3 separate regions of the Homo sapiens genome follow, and all the other regions are linked to region 1. Evidence: fine-mapped expression QTL. A gene starts in region 1. Each other region holds a variant in brackets. All regions are shown on one strand. Distances are between the middles of the regions.

Region 1 (5,201 bases):
GAGATTCCTCTGTCTCAGCCTCCCGAGTAGCTGGATTACAGGCGCCTGCCATCACAGCCAGCTAATTTTTGTATTTTTAGTAGAGACGGGGTTTCACCATGTTGGCCAGGCTGGTCTCAAACTCCTGGCCTCAAATGATCCACCCGCCTCAGCCTCCCAAAGTGCTGGGATTACAGGTGTGAGCCACTGTGCCCGGCCAGGACTTGTTTTTGAATGTTAATTCATGATGACCTATATTAGTTGAGTGGCCCAGAAATGTAACCCAAGAAAAAAACCATCTGATAACAGTGTCTCCCTTGAACCTTGTATCCCCTTTGTAGTCTGAAGCCCATCGTTTGTACCTTGAGTCTACCAAATATGAAGGTCAAGGGCAAACGGCCTTCTTGTGCTGGCTGTGGGTAGTGACCGTGCTTGGCTGTGGCTCCAGGTCTGTCCCACTGAGCCTCTGCAGGGCTTGTGAGTCAGCGTCTCTCTCCTGGACCCTGTACCCTGCCCCATCAAGGAGTCCCCCAAGGGGGTCCCGGGTTCCAGCACCACAGGTGTGCTAGGGGACTCTGGAGGAGGTCTGGATGGGAGGGCAGTTCTCACAATGAGCAAGACACCCCGGCTTCCCTATCCTTTAAGCAGGCCAGCCTGGTGAGCAGGTCTTCCACCTGCCCCCTCCCGGCCCAGGCTTCAGGGACCACGCCACCCACTGCCCTCTATCCCATAACGCCACTGCTCCTGTGGGGAACCTAGATGCTCATGAATCTACTTGCAGCAGCCTCCCCCACCCCAGCCCTTGTCTCCCTCCCTCCACTTACTCCCATTGCCGTGTACTTGAAGTTTTTCTCCCCAGCAGTGAATGCACATGCACGAAGTCAAACCCTCCTTCTCGCTCCTTCCAGAGGGGACAAGCAGAATGGCACAGTAGAAAGACTACAGCCTTTGAAATCAGACAGCCCAGGGTTTGAATCTCCAGCAAGTTCCTTAGCCAATCTGAGAACTCAGGTTTTTCAACTGTAGCATGTACCTACAATGTCCACTTCACAAGTGTTTAGTTGAGAATTTAAATATATATCAAAAGGATCCGGCAACCGCAGGAACTTAATAAATGGTCCCTATTGCTGGTATTGCTCATGCAGTGTCTGGCTGCTTCTTTGCCAAGGGAGTGGGGATACCCTGGTACCCCAAGCTGGCACAGTGTGGCCACACTCAAGTTCCAAGCACCCTGATTAGGTGCTTAGCCTCAGATGTTATACATGGCATTAGTGGCTTTTACAAATCTGGGATTTCAACTGGCAAGATTTTTTAAAGCCAGCATTGGCAAGAGTGCATGGGAAAAGTCACTGACCCCTGGCTCACAGGGTGCATGCTTTGTCTCGTAAAATCTTTCTAGGGGAACATCTAGAGATATGTATTGAAACAGCTCTGCCTCCAGGAATTCACAGAAAGTTGTGCAAAGACTTACATATCTGGATGTTCATGACAGCATGATTTGTAATACTAAACAAATAAAAAATGACCTCATCGCTCGTCACCTAACACTAGGGATTGTCTAGATAAAGCACAGTATATCCTGCTATAAAAGTTATGTTGTGGCAGGCTGGGTGTGGTGGCTCATGCCTGTAATCCCAGCATTTTGAGAGGCTGAGGTGGGAGGATCACTTGAGCCCATAAGTTCAAGACCACCCTGGGCAAGATAGGGAGACCCCATCTCTACAAAAAAAAAAAACTTAGCCGGGCGCGGTGGCGCACGCCTATAGTCCCAGCTACTCAGGAGGCTGAGGCCAGAGAATGGTGTGAACCCGGGAGGCGGAGCTTGCAGTGAGCCGAGATCACCCCACTGCACTCCAGCCTGGGCAACAGAGCGAGACCTGTCTCAAAAAAAAAAAAAAAAAAAAAAAAAAAATTAGGTGGGCCTGGTGGCACATGCCTGTGGTTTCAGCTAATTGGGAGGCTGAAGTGGGAGGATCACTTGAGCCCAGGAGGTCAAGGCAGCAGTGAACCATGATCAAGCCACTGCCCTCCAGCCTGGGCATCAGAGCAAGACCCTATCTCAAAAAAATAAATAAATAAAAAAGAAAAAGAAAAAGAAAAAAAGTTGTAGAAGTATAATATGGGAAGGTGTTTACAAAATATGAAAGGAGTTAAAAACGCTATAAATTAGTATGATCGTTTGAAACACTCCCCCTGCTCCCCTCCAGCCCCTCTTCAATGAGCTAGGAAAAGACTAGAGTACATACACCAAAATATTAGTATTGCCTCTGGGTGGTGGGATTATGAGTGATTTTTACTTTCTTCTTTGTGTTTTTCTGTATTTTCCAAATCTCTACAATTATCTCTGTATTTTTAAAGAAAAATTAGAAAATCAAATTTATTTTGACAATATACAGACTAAGCAGACAATATACAGACTGTTATACTGCTGAACAGAGAAACATGGGGATCATTGGCCTCCCAGTGAGATCAGAAGGAATTCCCAGACCTAAATATTATGGTTAACTCATGTCAAGATCACAGATCTTAACCAGAAGACAGTTCCTGACTATGGACCAATGAACTTGTGAAAAACTCTTAAATTGTTCTTACAATCCTTTATACGTGTTTTTTTTCTTAAAACCCTTGTATTTTGGAATAATTTTAGATTTACAGAAAAGTGGCAAAGACAGTCCCCATATAGCCCTTACTCAGTTTATCCTACTGTTAACATTTTACATAACCATGACATTTGTCCCAACTAAGAAAACAACATGGGAACGTCACTATTAACTAATTTTCAGGCTTTATTTGGATTTTACCAGTTTTCCAATTAACATCCTTTTTCTGTTCCAGGGTCAAGTCTGGGGTAGCACATCACAGATGTCTCCCCAGGCCGCTCTGTTGTGTGACAGTGTCCCAAACATTCCTTGTTTCTCATGTGCCCTGTATGAATTTCATAATCAGAAAAAGAAAGGACAGATGATGATGCAGATGATGATGGCAGATGATGATGATGTTGATGATGATGACTTAGGTCTGGGAATTCCTTCTGATCTCACTGGGAGGCCAATGATCCCCGTGTTTCTCTGTTCAGCAGAACAAAAGGAGAAAGGCCCCAGTATCAACGGGACACACAGAATTTGGGGCACCCTGATCCTCCTGCCCACTGCCTTAGCCTCTGCTCCTGCCGCTGTCCCCCAGCCCGACGCGGGGAATCTTTTGGGGCCCTCGGCTTGGGTTGGGCCCCTGCCAGTTGGGCGAGCGCGCGGGCGGTGCCCGAGTCAGCTGCTCCGTGCCCCACGTGGCCGCCCCGCCCCCCTGCCCGGGTCTCAAAAGCCCCGCCGGCCTCCGAGCGTCCGAACCGCCCGCTGCCAGCCCGGCCAGGCACCCCTGCAGCATGGCCTGGAACACCAACCTCCGCTGGCGGCTGCCGCTCACCTGCCTGCTCCTGCAGGTGATTATGGTGATTCTCTTCGGGGTGTTCGTGCGCTACGACTTCGAGGCCGACGCCCACTGGTGGTCAGAGAGGACGCACAAGAACTTGAGCGACATGGAGAACGAATTCTACTATCGCTACCCAAGTAAGTCTCGCCGCCTGCAGGCCCAGCGGAGGCATATCCGCGCCGGTCCCCACCTGGCCAAGGGCTCGGCCCAGAGCTGGGCAGAGGAGGGGATCTACCCTGCAGCCGCGGACTCCGCATCTCGCCGGCCTCTGCAGGGCATGCGTGGGAAATTGTCAGATGTGCACAAACTCCTTTTCCCCGTGAAAAACTAGTAGGGAAAACACCGGGATGAGGTTTTTATTTGACCGCCCTCCCAGCCGTCAGAGCCCCCCAACATCCCTGTCAGAGAGCCCTGCTTGGTATACTAAGAAGATCCGAGTCCTCTCGCCCCATTACCAACCAGTGGATGACCTGGCTCCCTTGTCCAGAGGAGCGCTTACTCCAAATAAGCGCCAGCCCTGCTGTGGGCAGAGGTGTTGTGGGACCACTGGTGGGCCAGGAGGCCAGGACACCCACCCCCTTTTAGCTTGGAGAGGGAAAACAAGCGCCCCTGAATCTTCTGGTGTCAGCGGTGCTGTGGTTAAGAGCATGACCCTACAATCACACACCTCCCTTTCTCTCATGCTCTCGTGGCTCTTGCCACAAACCAGGTGGCTGGCCTCAGGCAAATGCCAACCTTCCTAAACCTCAATTTCCTCATCTACAGAATGAAGATAATGGTAGGACCTCCTTCACAGGGGTTGGGGTGAGGCTGTGGCGAGGAAGTGCATGTAAAGCTCTGGCAGAGTTGGGGTGGGATCCTTTCTTCATAATGGAGCAATTGCTACAAGAGCACCAAACACAGGTGCCCTAGGACTCAGGAGCAGGGAGAGCTAGCCCAAGGTCACTCTGAGCTGCCCGACCTCTGGACTCCCAGCCTGGGGCTCTTCCCAAAATCAGAATGCCCTTGTACTTTCTGATTTTCCACTCCATCCGCCATCAGCCAATGAAAATTATTCTAGCCGGTGGTGTTCATGTAGTCATTGACTGTTAGCTTTGAAAGGGACCCTAAAGCCCCTCTCCAGCAGCCGCCTATATCAACTGGTATTCCCTCCACACCTTAGACATTCTCGGCAACAGGGGATTCTCTATCTCCAAGAAAACAACTGCACACTTTCAGAATGGCAGCCTGCATGAAAAAAGACTGCGTTTGGGGGGCTGCAGGCTTGGTGGGAGCCAGCCATATTAAGTGGCTGCCAAAAAGTTAGGGCTATCATGGGCTGCATTTAATAGTTACTTGGTGCCTAGAAGGGAAGTAACAGATAAGGGGTGCGCCCCCTGCTGGGGAGACCACAGTTTCTCCTGGGCTCCATTTAGGGCTGTTTTTTAAAAGATATCTTAGACAGCTGCAGCCTTGGGATTCAGGCTCCAAATCCACTGTTCACATTGTCCACCTTTCCTCTCCTCAAGGGGGGGACTTTCCAGCAAACAGTGAGGCAGGCAAGCTTGAGACCCTCCTTTACCTGTTCTTCTCCCTCCCTCCCGCACTTGCTTCCCACTTGACCCCAGAGCATAAGGGGCAAGAACTCCCATGGGCGTTCACAGGTCCTCAATGTGTCTGGGGAGTGGAGGACCTCAAGACCTTAAATAGGCTGGGTGCGATGGCTCACACCTGTAATCCCAGCATACTTTGGGAGGCTGAGGTGGGAGGATCGCTTGAGCTTGGGAGTTTGAAGCTACAGTGAGCTATGACAGCAC
Region 2 (5,223 bases), 29 kb after region 1:
CCCTCCATCAGCTACTCCAGAAACTCAGCCCTTGAGAAAGCTGGCATCTCTGTTGTGCCCTCCATGTGGTCCTGCTCTGGGCACTCCAGCAGGACTGCGAGAAGGGAGGGAGGGCTCCTTTGGGCCCATCTCCTCCTCCCCATCCCTTCCCTTCTTTCTCTCTGCCAAGCCAGCCTTCTTTTCCCTGGACAGTGGGGTAAGGTTTCAGGAGGGTAGATCTCCCAGGCTCACCACCACCCTGGGCAGAGTAATACACCTTCCTGCCCTCAGGGGCTCACAGTCTAGCTGGGAGACAGACCTGACCCTCAGAATCCATGCTGAACTCTGACAGGTGTGGCTGGACAGGAAGTCTGTACCCAGTTGGCTTCTCAAAGCAGGGCCACCTGAGCAGGGTTCTGGAGGCTGAATAGGAGTTTACCAGAAGGATGGCAAAGAAACAGCATGGGCACAGACCCATGGGTAGGAATTAACACGGTGAAGTCTGCTACTGGCTAGAAGAGATGTGAGGCAGAAGTGTGCCAGTTGGAGAATAAGACTTGGAATCCGGATCTTTTGTGGAGCAAAGGCTCCTGGGAAGAAGGGGTGAGGGAAAAGGGAGGAGGTCTCTCAGCTTCCAACTCCGCCCTCCCCGCCCCCTTGCAATTCACACACACACACACACACACACACACACACACACACACACACACACACACACACCGCTGCATGCCTCTTACCAGTGCAGGGGGGAGGGGAAGGAGGGATCTGAAATGCAACCTATTCATGTACCCGCGATGTAACACCCCTCATTTTCCATGCTGGGTAAAGACAAAAACCCTTTACAACCTGTTTCTGGAACTTGTCAGCAGCTGCCAAGAGGAGCATGTTAATTAAACGTCGGCAAAGATGGAAGCCGGAGACCCTGGCTCTAATTGGACAGTTTGCTTCACCGGATTGAAAAACATTGTGACAAAGGAGAAGGTGCGCGGCGCTCGGCAGGGGTGCGGCGTGGCGGGGAGGGAGCTGTGGCTTTGATTTCAGCTGATCTGAGCCCCAGCCTCCCTCCCCCAGCAGAGCCGCTTGGCCCAGCCCCATATGCCTATGAAGGGCCTGGGAGGGGCCCGCAGCGTGAGAGGGTGCAGGGTGGCGTGGGGGGCGGGGTGCGAAGGGGTGCTGGGGGGGTGGTTCCTGAAGCCCACCTCCCACCCCTCCCACCCCAATCCCAGGCACCACCAGGCCAACAGTATTGGGCCCAACCCAGAGCCAGGCTTTTAGGGCTCTGGGGCTCACCCCTCCTCCTGATCACATGACCTGGGTCCTGGGGGCTGCACAGGGAGGGGAGGGGGCCAGCGCTGGCTTCCAACTCCCTCCTGTGCAATGTGCAGGCTACACTAAGAGCCTATGCCCACCGCGTCTGTTACCAGTTGAGGATAGTTGTCCAAGTTCTTGGCATTTTGAACAAAGAATTAGACCAAATGCACAAAGCAAGGCAGCAAAAGCAGAGATTTATTTTAAACGAAAGTACACTCCACAGGGTGGGAGCGGGCTCGAGCAAGAGGCTCAAGAGCCTGGGCTACAGGATTTTCTGGGGTTTAAATACCCTCCAGGGGTTTCCCATCTGTTCACTCTATGCACATAAAGTAGTGGCCCGCAACCAGTCTGATTGGTTGCGGGAGGGAACCAATCCGAGGTACTTTCATTTCCAACTGCCAGGCAGCAACTGCCATGCAGAAAAAGGAGGGGTTGAAAGGGAGTAGCCTCTGATATCCAGTCAGCATGCATCGAACTTAGGTTCCCTGCCTCCAGACCCTATTCTCCTGCCTCATTTCCCCCGAGAGACATGATCCCCAGAAATCTTTATGGGAGACAGAGTGACTGATGGTCTTTCTTCTGTAACTGCGTCACCCTGACTTGAGGTGCAGTCCCTACCTATTGGGGATCCCCGAACTCCTGCCTTTATCTATCGAGTGGAGACTGGGTAGTTTCTTGATGGCCAGGGGTGCTGCCTTCATTTGGAACAGGCTGGAAACCTTGTCACAGGATCATCTGAAACTTGATGGTCTCTAGGTGAGAGGAAATGAATTTGGTTAAAAGATTTAATGGGAACTTCAGGGGGTGGATACCTATGCTGTCAGGAATGTTTGTTATAGGAATGAATTACAACAGTCTGCTTAGTCACTACAAAGGAAGTGATTCCAATCGTTTGAAAGAAAGCACCTAAACTGCAAGAAATCTGAGAACATGGCTGCTATTATCCAGCCTACAGTAACTATGCAACAAAAACACCAAGGAAAGTTGGTAGGCATTTACTTGTCTTTTGACTGTCTGATGGAAACTTCAGGCTCCTGGTCCC[T/G]GGCTTCAGGTATCACAGACTTGATCCTTGAAAGATGTATCCAACTATCTAATCCTAGTACCTTGACCATAGAAGGCATAGCCAGTACCACTAAAAACGGTCCCTTCCATTGGGGTTGCAATTGTTGAGCAGGTGATCCCTCCTTCTATGTTTTAACAAGTACCTTATCCCTTAGCCTGATTTTGGGTTGCTGGTTAGTTCCCGGTATGGTGGGGCCTTTGAGTTCCAAACTTTTGTAAAGCCTGCTGAAATTGTCTTAAGTTAACTAGGTATCTTGCTAAACTGGCTGTTTCTGGATCAGTAATTAAATCACTAGTTAAGAATGGCCTTCCATATAACATTTCATAGGGGGTTATATTAATTTTTGCTCTAGGGGTATTACGGATCCTTAAGAGGGCTATAGGCAGTAAGCTGACCCAAGTTTTTGATGTTTCCTGACATAGTTTAGCTAACACTCATTTTAGAGTTTGGTTAGCCATTTCTACTTTCCTGGAGGATTGAGGCCTCCATGCTGAATGTAAATAGTATTTGATTCCAAGAGCCTTAGCAACCCCTTGAGTTATTTGGGAGATAAAAGATGAGCCATTATCACTTTGGAGGCTCTGAGGTAACCCAGACCGGGGGATTATTTCTTTTAAGGGAAACTTTATAGCCTCATTAGCCTTCTCTGTTCTGGTAGGGTAAGCTTTGACCCAACCAGTAAAGATATCTATTAGCACTCACAAAAACTTGTATCCTCTGCAAGCTGGCATATGGGTGAAGTCTAATTACCAGTCTTCCCCTGGGTAAGTTCCTCTCCTCTGGTCTGGTTCTATTAGAGGAGGCATTTTGTTTCCTGGGTTAAGTGCACACAGTGAGCAGGCTTGACAGGCCTGCTTAACCACCGAAGTTAAGTTAGGCCCAATGAAGAGCCTGTTAACCATGGCCAGGGTGGCATCTCTCCCCATATGGAAGGAGTCATCCAGGGTTTTTATAATTCTCCATTGGGCTGTTTGAGGCAGATGTATTTTTGATCTCATATACCACCAGGATCTTTTTTTTTTTTTTTTTTTTTTTGCCCCACTTGCTCCTTTATTAACTGTTCTTCCTGTAGTGTGTATTTGGGATCCACTGGGAATCATAGAAAGGAATCAGTGCTAGGATCTGTTGGGATTGCACCCTGAGGGATGTGGCTTTGGCTTCTCTATCAACCTTTCTGTTCCCTTGTGCTATAGGAGTTAAGTCCCTTTGATGCCCCCTACAATGGATTATAGCTATGGCCTGTGGCAGGTGTATTGTTTACAATAGCTGAAGAATTTCAGGCCCATGCTTTATGGGGGAGGGTTTGCTAGCTAGTAGTCCCCTTTCTTTCTAGATTGCAGCATAAGCGTGAACCACAAGGAATGCCATATTTAGAATCTGTATAGATGTTAAGCTTTTTATTTTGTCCCAAAATTAATGCTCGGGTAAGAGCAATGATTTCAGCCTTTTGTGCTGATGTGCCAAGGGGCAGTGGCTGGGCTTCGATAAGGGTGTTGTGATTGACTATTGCATACACAGCTCAGTGTTCCCCATTTGACACAGAACTGCCATCTGTGAACAAGTCCTCAGAATCTGGGAGAGGCTGATCTTTTAAATTAGGCCAGCTAACATATGCATGTGCAATGACTGGCTCGCAGGAATGATCTGTCATTGGGCCTATGGGTATCAATGAAGCTGGATTCAAAGTGTTACAGGTTTTAAGGGTTACATCTGGATTGTCTAGGAGCACGGCCTGGTATTTGGTTAACCTTTCCCCCATCACCCAGATGTGTCCTTTTATCTCTAAGACTGACTTTACCTGATGGGGGGTTAGAACTTCCAGTGATTGGCTCAGGGTGATTTTAGTGGCTTCCTCCACTAACATAGCAATGGCTGCTGTTACCCACAGGCAACTTGGCCATCCCAAGGCCACTCTCTCCAACTTCTTTGAAAAGTAGGTGTTTGGTCTGGGTTCTGATCCTAATTTCTGGACTAGCACTCCCACAGCTATGCCATTCGTCTCTGCTACATACAAGGGAAGGGCTTAGTTAGGTCTGGGATCCCAAGAGCTGGAGCCTGGGTAAGGGCCTATTTTAGCTTGGCACAGGCTTCTCTCATTTCCAGGGTCCATTCCATTAGCTCATTTTCAGGCCTCCTTGTTGCTTCATACAGGGGCTTTGCTATGAGCCCTAAATTTGGTACTCATATTCCACAAAACCTGGCCATTCCCCAAAAAGAATGAAGCTGCTGCTTGGGGTGGAGGGGCCCAAACCACATATGGCTTGCACTCGTTCTGGGGATACTTGCAGGTTCCAGGTGTTAAGATGTACCCTAAACAGTGGACCTGTTGGAGAGTAATCTGAGCCTTCTTTTTGGACACTTTGTATGACCTGTCAGCCGGGAAATGTAAGGTTTTTATAGTATTTTGGTCAGAAGCCTCTTGGGTTGGGCTATACACAAGAAGGTGATCCACATACTGGAGTATACTCCCATCCTCCAATTGCAGACCCCTCAGATCCCTCTCTAAGGGTTGGGCAAAGAAGTGGGGGCTATCCCAAAAGCCTTAGGGGAGCACTGCCCAAGTGTTTTTCTCTGGTATTAGGATTTTCCCATTCAAAGGCAAAAGGGTATTGGGACTCTGGAACCAGAGGAATGAAGAAGAAAGCATCTTTTAGGTGTAGGACTGAGAACCATTTTGCATCCCCTGGTACCTGAGCCAGTAGGGTATATAGATCCATCATCAATGGGTGGAGAGAGATAACAGCCTCATTAATTATTCTGAGAACCTATACTACCCTGTATTTCCCCAAAAGCTTTAGAACGGTTAAGATGGGGGTGTTGCAGGGAGAATTGCAAGGTTTTAAGAGCCCATGGGTAAGTAATACCTCAAC
Region 3 (5,223 bases), 57 kb after region 1:
CTGACGCTCCCTGTTCCAGGGTGCTCTCCTGCAAAGGGCCTCATGAGGCCTAGGACCTAGAGTCTCATATCTCCCAGGTAGACACCCCGGCAAGCTGCCACAGCACCCCCACCCCACAGAGACTTAGGATGGCATCAGGACCCAGTCATGAAGGGGGGCAGGTGACTCCCAGGCAACCCAGCCACCACCTACTACCTTCCCAGGGGGTGGCAGGCGGCAACCAGAACCTAGAGCCCCTGCCGCTACCCCCGCTGACACAGAGCACCCTCAGCTGCCCCGTGTAAGCCACTGAAACCTGGCTCCAGAAGCACATTAGAGGGTCCCAGCCACCACCATGGTCTCTGACCGCACGGCACCACATACCACAGACCCTGTGAGACCCAGGAACCCAAGCAAGACGACATCGTCTTGCCTGTACACAGCAAACTTCCCCGCCCTGGAGCTGGCCTACTGCCCCCCGCCCCTTTCTGCTTTTCCAGTAGGGTCAGTGGCTTTCAGGCATTGTCCCAGGAGGGTGGGGGCTGGAATCCTCACCAGGAGAACCCCAGCACCAGCCCCGGCAATGACTGGATGCCAAATGCTTGACTCCTTTTTTCATTTCTATCATATCCACAAATATGTATTGAACCAGGCACCAGGCCCTACCCGAGTGCTTGGGATCCACCAGTGAAAACAACCAATACCCCTGCAGTCTCAGAGCTGACATCCGAACTTGACTCAAAAGCATGAATAGGTGGGTCGGGATCATGGTTGGCTTCATGCCTTTGCTCAAATGTCACCCTCTTAATGAGGCCTTCCCTGGCCCATTTGCAATGGCGGCCCCAGCACACCCTGTTCACCTTCCTGCTTTATTCCTCACCTTCAGCTCATCTCTATGATGTACTTATTTATCTTGTTTATTGCCCACCTCCTCCACCAGAATGTCAGCTCTGTGAGGCAGGGATGGTCATGTGTTTTGTTTAGAGCTGTATATCATGATGCCTGGATCATCATGCTCAATAAAGGGGCTCAATAAAGGTTGTTGAATAAGTGAACACTCAGCCTTGCTTCACTGACCGGCTCCTTCCTGTGCGGCCTCAGTTCCTCTCTCAGTTCCTCTCCCAAGCCCCACCCACAGGTGCTCCCCTCAGGCTGTAAGGTTTGCTCCGCCCTCCTGGCTCCACCCCTCCCTATGCCCAGGATTAGTGGGAAGCCACAGTGGCCTTGGGAAGAGCATGGGCATCTGGGTGCCCTAGACCTCACCCAGGCCACTGACCCTGATCTGCCCACTGGGCCTGCCTGACCTGGTGCTGGCTTTGTGCCCACTGCCCCAGCTGTGCCCTCCCTCTTCCTCCCCTCCCTCCTCCCTGACACAGCAGGTGGACAGAGCCTGTGCAGCTCTAGCTGCATTGCCTCAGGGGGCAGCTTTCTAGCTTCTGGTGACCTGCCACCCTCTCACTCCCCTCTGAGCTCATGGCACAGTGGACAGCTACCAGCCTGGCTCACGGCAACCTCCAGCTCCTGGGCTCAAGCGATTCCCCCTGCCTCAGCCTCCCAGGTAGTTGGGGCTATAGGTGTGCACCACCACACCTGGCTAATATTTAAAATTTATTTATTCATTTATTTATTTTTTTGAGACAGAGTTTCGCTCTCGTTGCCCAGGCTGGAGTGCAATGGTGCGATCTCGGCTCACTGCAACTTCCGCCTCCTGGGTTCAAGTGATTATCCTGCCTCAACCTCCCGAGTAGCTGAGATTACAGGCACCTGCCGCCACACCTGCTAATTTTTGTATTTTCAGTAGAGACAGGGTTTTACCACATTGGTCAGGCTAGTCTCGAACTCCTGACCTCAAGTGATCTGCCTGCCTCAGCCTCCCAAAGTGGTGTAAAAAATTATTTTAGAGACGGAGTCTCGCTATGTTGCCCAGGCAGGTCACAAACTCCTGGGCACAAGGGATCCTTCCACTTCAGCCTCCCAAAGTGCTGAGATTACAGGATTGAGTCACTGCACCCGGCTTACCATTTTCAAGCATGTTGACATTCAGGATTGGGCCTGAGCCCCTGAAACCAGCATGCAGGTAGCCAGGGCAGGATTGCAATGCCCATTTTACAGAGGCGGGCCCAGAACTCACAGAATGAGGCTCATACATCTCATACCTGAGGCTTGGACCCAGAGCTAGTCTCGGAAGGTTCTGGAGCCCTTTGGGCTGGGACACAGTCCCTGCTGGGATCAGGGACCCGATGCCACCCTCTGGTGAGAGAAGCAGCCCAGTTTCTCCCTGCCCATCTCTGAAGATCCTTGCAGTTTATTCACCAGTTCATTCAATTCTCATTTTCCCAGAGACAGTACATGTCACAGAAGATTCAAGCATACTCCTGAACAGGAAACTTTTCTGGGACTCAAGTTTCTTTACCTGTAGAAGGGGCTTAATGATAGCATGTATTATTGTTAGTACTTATTATTAGTAATAGAATATAAGA[G/A]GTCATTGTGAAGAGTCACTGAGGCATGGTATATAACATGTTCTGCACATTGTCTGGTACATAGGAAACATTCATTATATTCATTAAATAGTAGCGATTTTTATTCTGGGTCTAGGCATAGAGATGCAGCTGGGTGAGAGACATAGACTCCCTTGCTCTGGAAGCCTTGTGTCCCCTGGGGAAGCCACAACCAGAGTGTCAGCATGCAACATGCAGGCCCACCCAAGGAGAAGCCTCGCAGAGGGGCAGCTAAGTCAGCCAATGGGGCCACAAAGGCGCAAAGGCGTCCTAAAAGAAGGGACCACTAAGACCGGATGCATGCTCAGGAGCAGTCCAGGCAAGGAAGGAGGGATGGTGTCTTGCCCAAAGGCACGGCAGGTGCTAACGTGGGTCTGCTGGGGCAAGCGGAGGCAGACGGAGGCCAGCTTCAAGAGGCCTGTGCAAGCCCCTCTGGAAAGCTGGGACTTCTGGGGGCACTGGGGACATGGCACAGCTGAGCTCAGAGAACAAGAGGGTAGATAGAGAAGGAAGAGGGGCTGTAGAGAGAGGTGATGGCAGAGGGAAGAGAGGGGCATGGAGAGGGGCCAGGTGAGTGGGGTGCCCTCAGGCACTGGATCAGAAAGTCTGGGTGTGGGCTGGGGCGGTGGCTCATGCCTATAATCCCAGCACTTTGTGAGGCCGAGGTGGGTGGATTGCTTGAGGTCAGGAGTTCAAGACCAGCCTGACCAACATAGTGAAACCCCGACTCCACTAAAAATACAAAAAAATTAGCCGGGCATGGTGGTGGGTGCCTGTAATCCCAGCTACTTGGGAGGCTGAGGCAAGAGAATCGCTTGAACCTGAGAGGTGGAGGTTTCAGTGAGCCGAGATCGTGCCACTGCACTCCAGCCTGGGTGACAGAGGGAGACTCTGTCAAAAAAAAAGAAAAAAGAAAGGCTGGGGTGTTTACCATCCAGCAAAGGGAGGTAAAGTGATAGGGAGAGGGGTCCTCTTTTCCAACTCAAATGGAGATGCCATATGGGCTAGCTCTGGTGCTGCAGGCAGGACCCCCGTGAGCACTCCCTCTGGACCCAAGCCCTGTTCTGGGAAGGAGTTGCCCGGCTTCCCGATAGCAGTCCTCCAAGCTCTGAGCACTCTTGGGCTGGTGAGCCAGTATGGGATGAGGAGGGGATCCCCTGGTGGTCCTCCCAGAATCCTACCCTCCAAGAGCCAGGACTGTGTGTCATCTACTGTGTGAACTCACAAAACTGTCTTCCCCAGTCTGGGTTTCAGTTTCCTCATCTGTCAAGTGGACCCATTTCTTTTCTCCCCTCAGGTCCTAGTGTTGGCACACATTTAGTCTGGGGTGCTCAGCCGACCAGCACCAGGGTCTCCCTGCCACCTGGATCCCTTACTGCTCCCACACCAAGAGGACCTGTGACCCACGAGTGCAGGGAAGCCATGTGAACGGCAAGAACCTAGTTGCTGGACTGAGCAGCCTCCTGCAGACATTCTGGTCTACACCGACCTGGCTCAGCCGGAGTCAGCCCCTCTCTAGAGCTGGCAAGAGGCCCAAGCTTAGCGCCTCTTCCAGAGGGGGTAGCCCATTGCCCTCCCATATCTGACAGGTCTCCTTGTGCTCCAAGGGGCAGTGAGGGGTTGGAGTGTCTCTTGCTGCCTCTTTTCTGGCCTCATCCCCACAGCTGTGGCTGCACTCTCACCGCTACCCTGAGCTTCTGTGGATGCTGAATTCATATGAAATCTCAGAGGGAGGGCTCCTGGGTGGGCAGACAGATGGGAAGAGGAGATGCTCCAAGGCTTTCCTCCCTGACCCTGCTCTCCCAAGATTGTCCTCTGCCCTCATGTGCGGGGCCTGAGCAAGCAGGACAGGCTGCCTGGTTGAACTGGTGGTCTCATCTCAGGCAGGATCTAGGTGTATGATGTGGCCTCAGGTCTGGGCTGACAGAGGACAGTCTGGTATAACACAGAGGCCCCTGTGGGACCTCAAGCAGGCTCTGGGGAAGTCAGTGACCAGTGAGTCCTGAGCAGGACGGAGCTAGAGCTAATGACTCCAGCAGATCTCATGAATGCTCAGAGTTGGGCCCGGCACAGTGACTCACGCCTGTAATCACAGCATTTTGGGAAGCTGAGGCAGGCAGATCACTTGAGGTCAGGAGTTCAAGACCAGCCTGACCAACACAGTGAAAAGTACATAGCAAAATACATAGCAAAAAATACAAAAATACAAAAAAATTAGCCAGGCGTGGTGGTGTGTGTCTATAGTCCCAGCTACTTGGGAGGCTAAGGCAGGAGAATGGCTTGAACCTGGGAGGCAGAGGTTGCAGTGAGCCGAGATTGTGCCACTGCACTCCAACCTGGACGACAGAATGAGACTAGATGTCATATGACTTAGCATGCCAATGCTTAAAGGCTTAAGGAGAGGAGAGGAGGAGGTGAGTGAGACTATGTGACTATGTCTCAAAACAAACAAACAAAATAACAACAACAACAACAAAAACACAGGTGAGAGTTGAGCCAACCCAGGCTGAATCCTTGCTCTTCTGCCTTCTAGCCGTGTGACCTTGGACAAGTCATTGGACTTCTCTGTGTTTCAGTTCCCTGTGCAAAGTAAAAAGCAACAGTAACACCTATTCTAAAGGGTTGATATCACGGAATAGATATAAAGTACCTGGCACAGGACCTAACACTGAGTAGTTACTCAATTAATGGTAACTATGATTATTTGTATTCCCATGGACAAGTGGCTACATGGTACTTCAGTGCC

Direction of the effects. Alleles are on the strand shown, and positions count from the first base shown. SD is a standard deviation of normalised expression in the study named.
For the expression in prefrontal cortex of the gene that starts at base 3,320 in region 1, G is the high allele of the variant in region 2 and T is the other (small effect, 0.35 SD a copy in BrainSeq).
In carriers of allele A in region 3, the expression in anterior cingulate cortex of the gene that starts at base 3,320 in region 1 tends to be higher than with G alone (moderate effect, 0.49 SD a copy in GTEx).

Evidence for each region. PIP is the estimated chance that this variant, and not a neighbour inherited with it, causes the effect. A credible set is the group of variants that fine-mapping cannot tell apart.
Region 2: its variant is the best candidate, but not a certain one, in a credible set for the expression of RHCG in prefrontal cortex (BrainSeq, PIP 0.88).
Region 3: its variant is the best candidate, but not a certain one, in a credible set for the expression of RHCG in anterior cingulate cortex (GTEx, PIP 0.58).

Annotation. Positions count from the first base shown.
Region 1 is chr15:89,494,702-89,499,902 of GRCh38, reverse strand. It overlaps RHCG (Rh family C glycoprotein), which reads left to right and starts at 3,320. Exons shown (of 11, transcript NM_016321.3): 1 at 3,320-3,542. The coding sequence starts at 3,359.
Region 2 is chr15:89,465,973-89,471,195 of GRCh38, reverse strand. It overlaps LOC105370964 (a long non-coding RNA gene), which reads left to right and starts at 1,924. Exons shown (of 3, transcript XR_932600.4): 1 at 1,924-2,046. It overlaps LOC112268153 (a long non-coding RNA gene), which reads right to left. Exons shown (of 2, transcript XR_002957725.2): 2 at 1,465-2,042. The variant T/G (reference allele first, on the strand shown) is at 2,333.
Region 3 is chr15:89,437,482-89,442,704 of GRCh38, reverse strand. No RefSeq gene overlaps it. Among named protein-coding and RNA genes, the nearest start is that of RHCG, 56 kb to the left of the region's middle. RefSeq lists enhancers at 795-944, 410-1,089, 1,090-1,769. The variant G/A (reference allele first, on the strand shown) is at 2,460.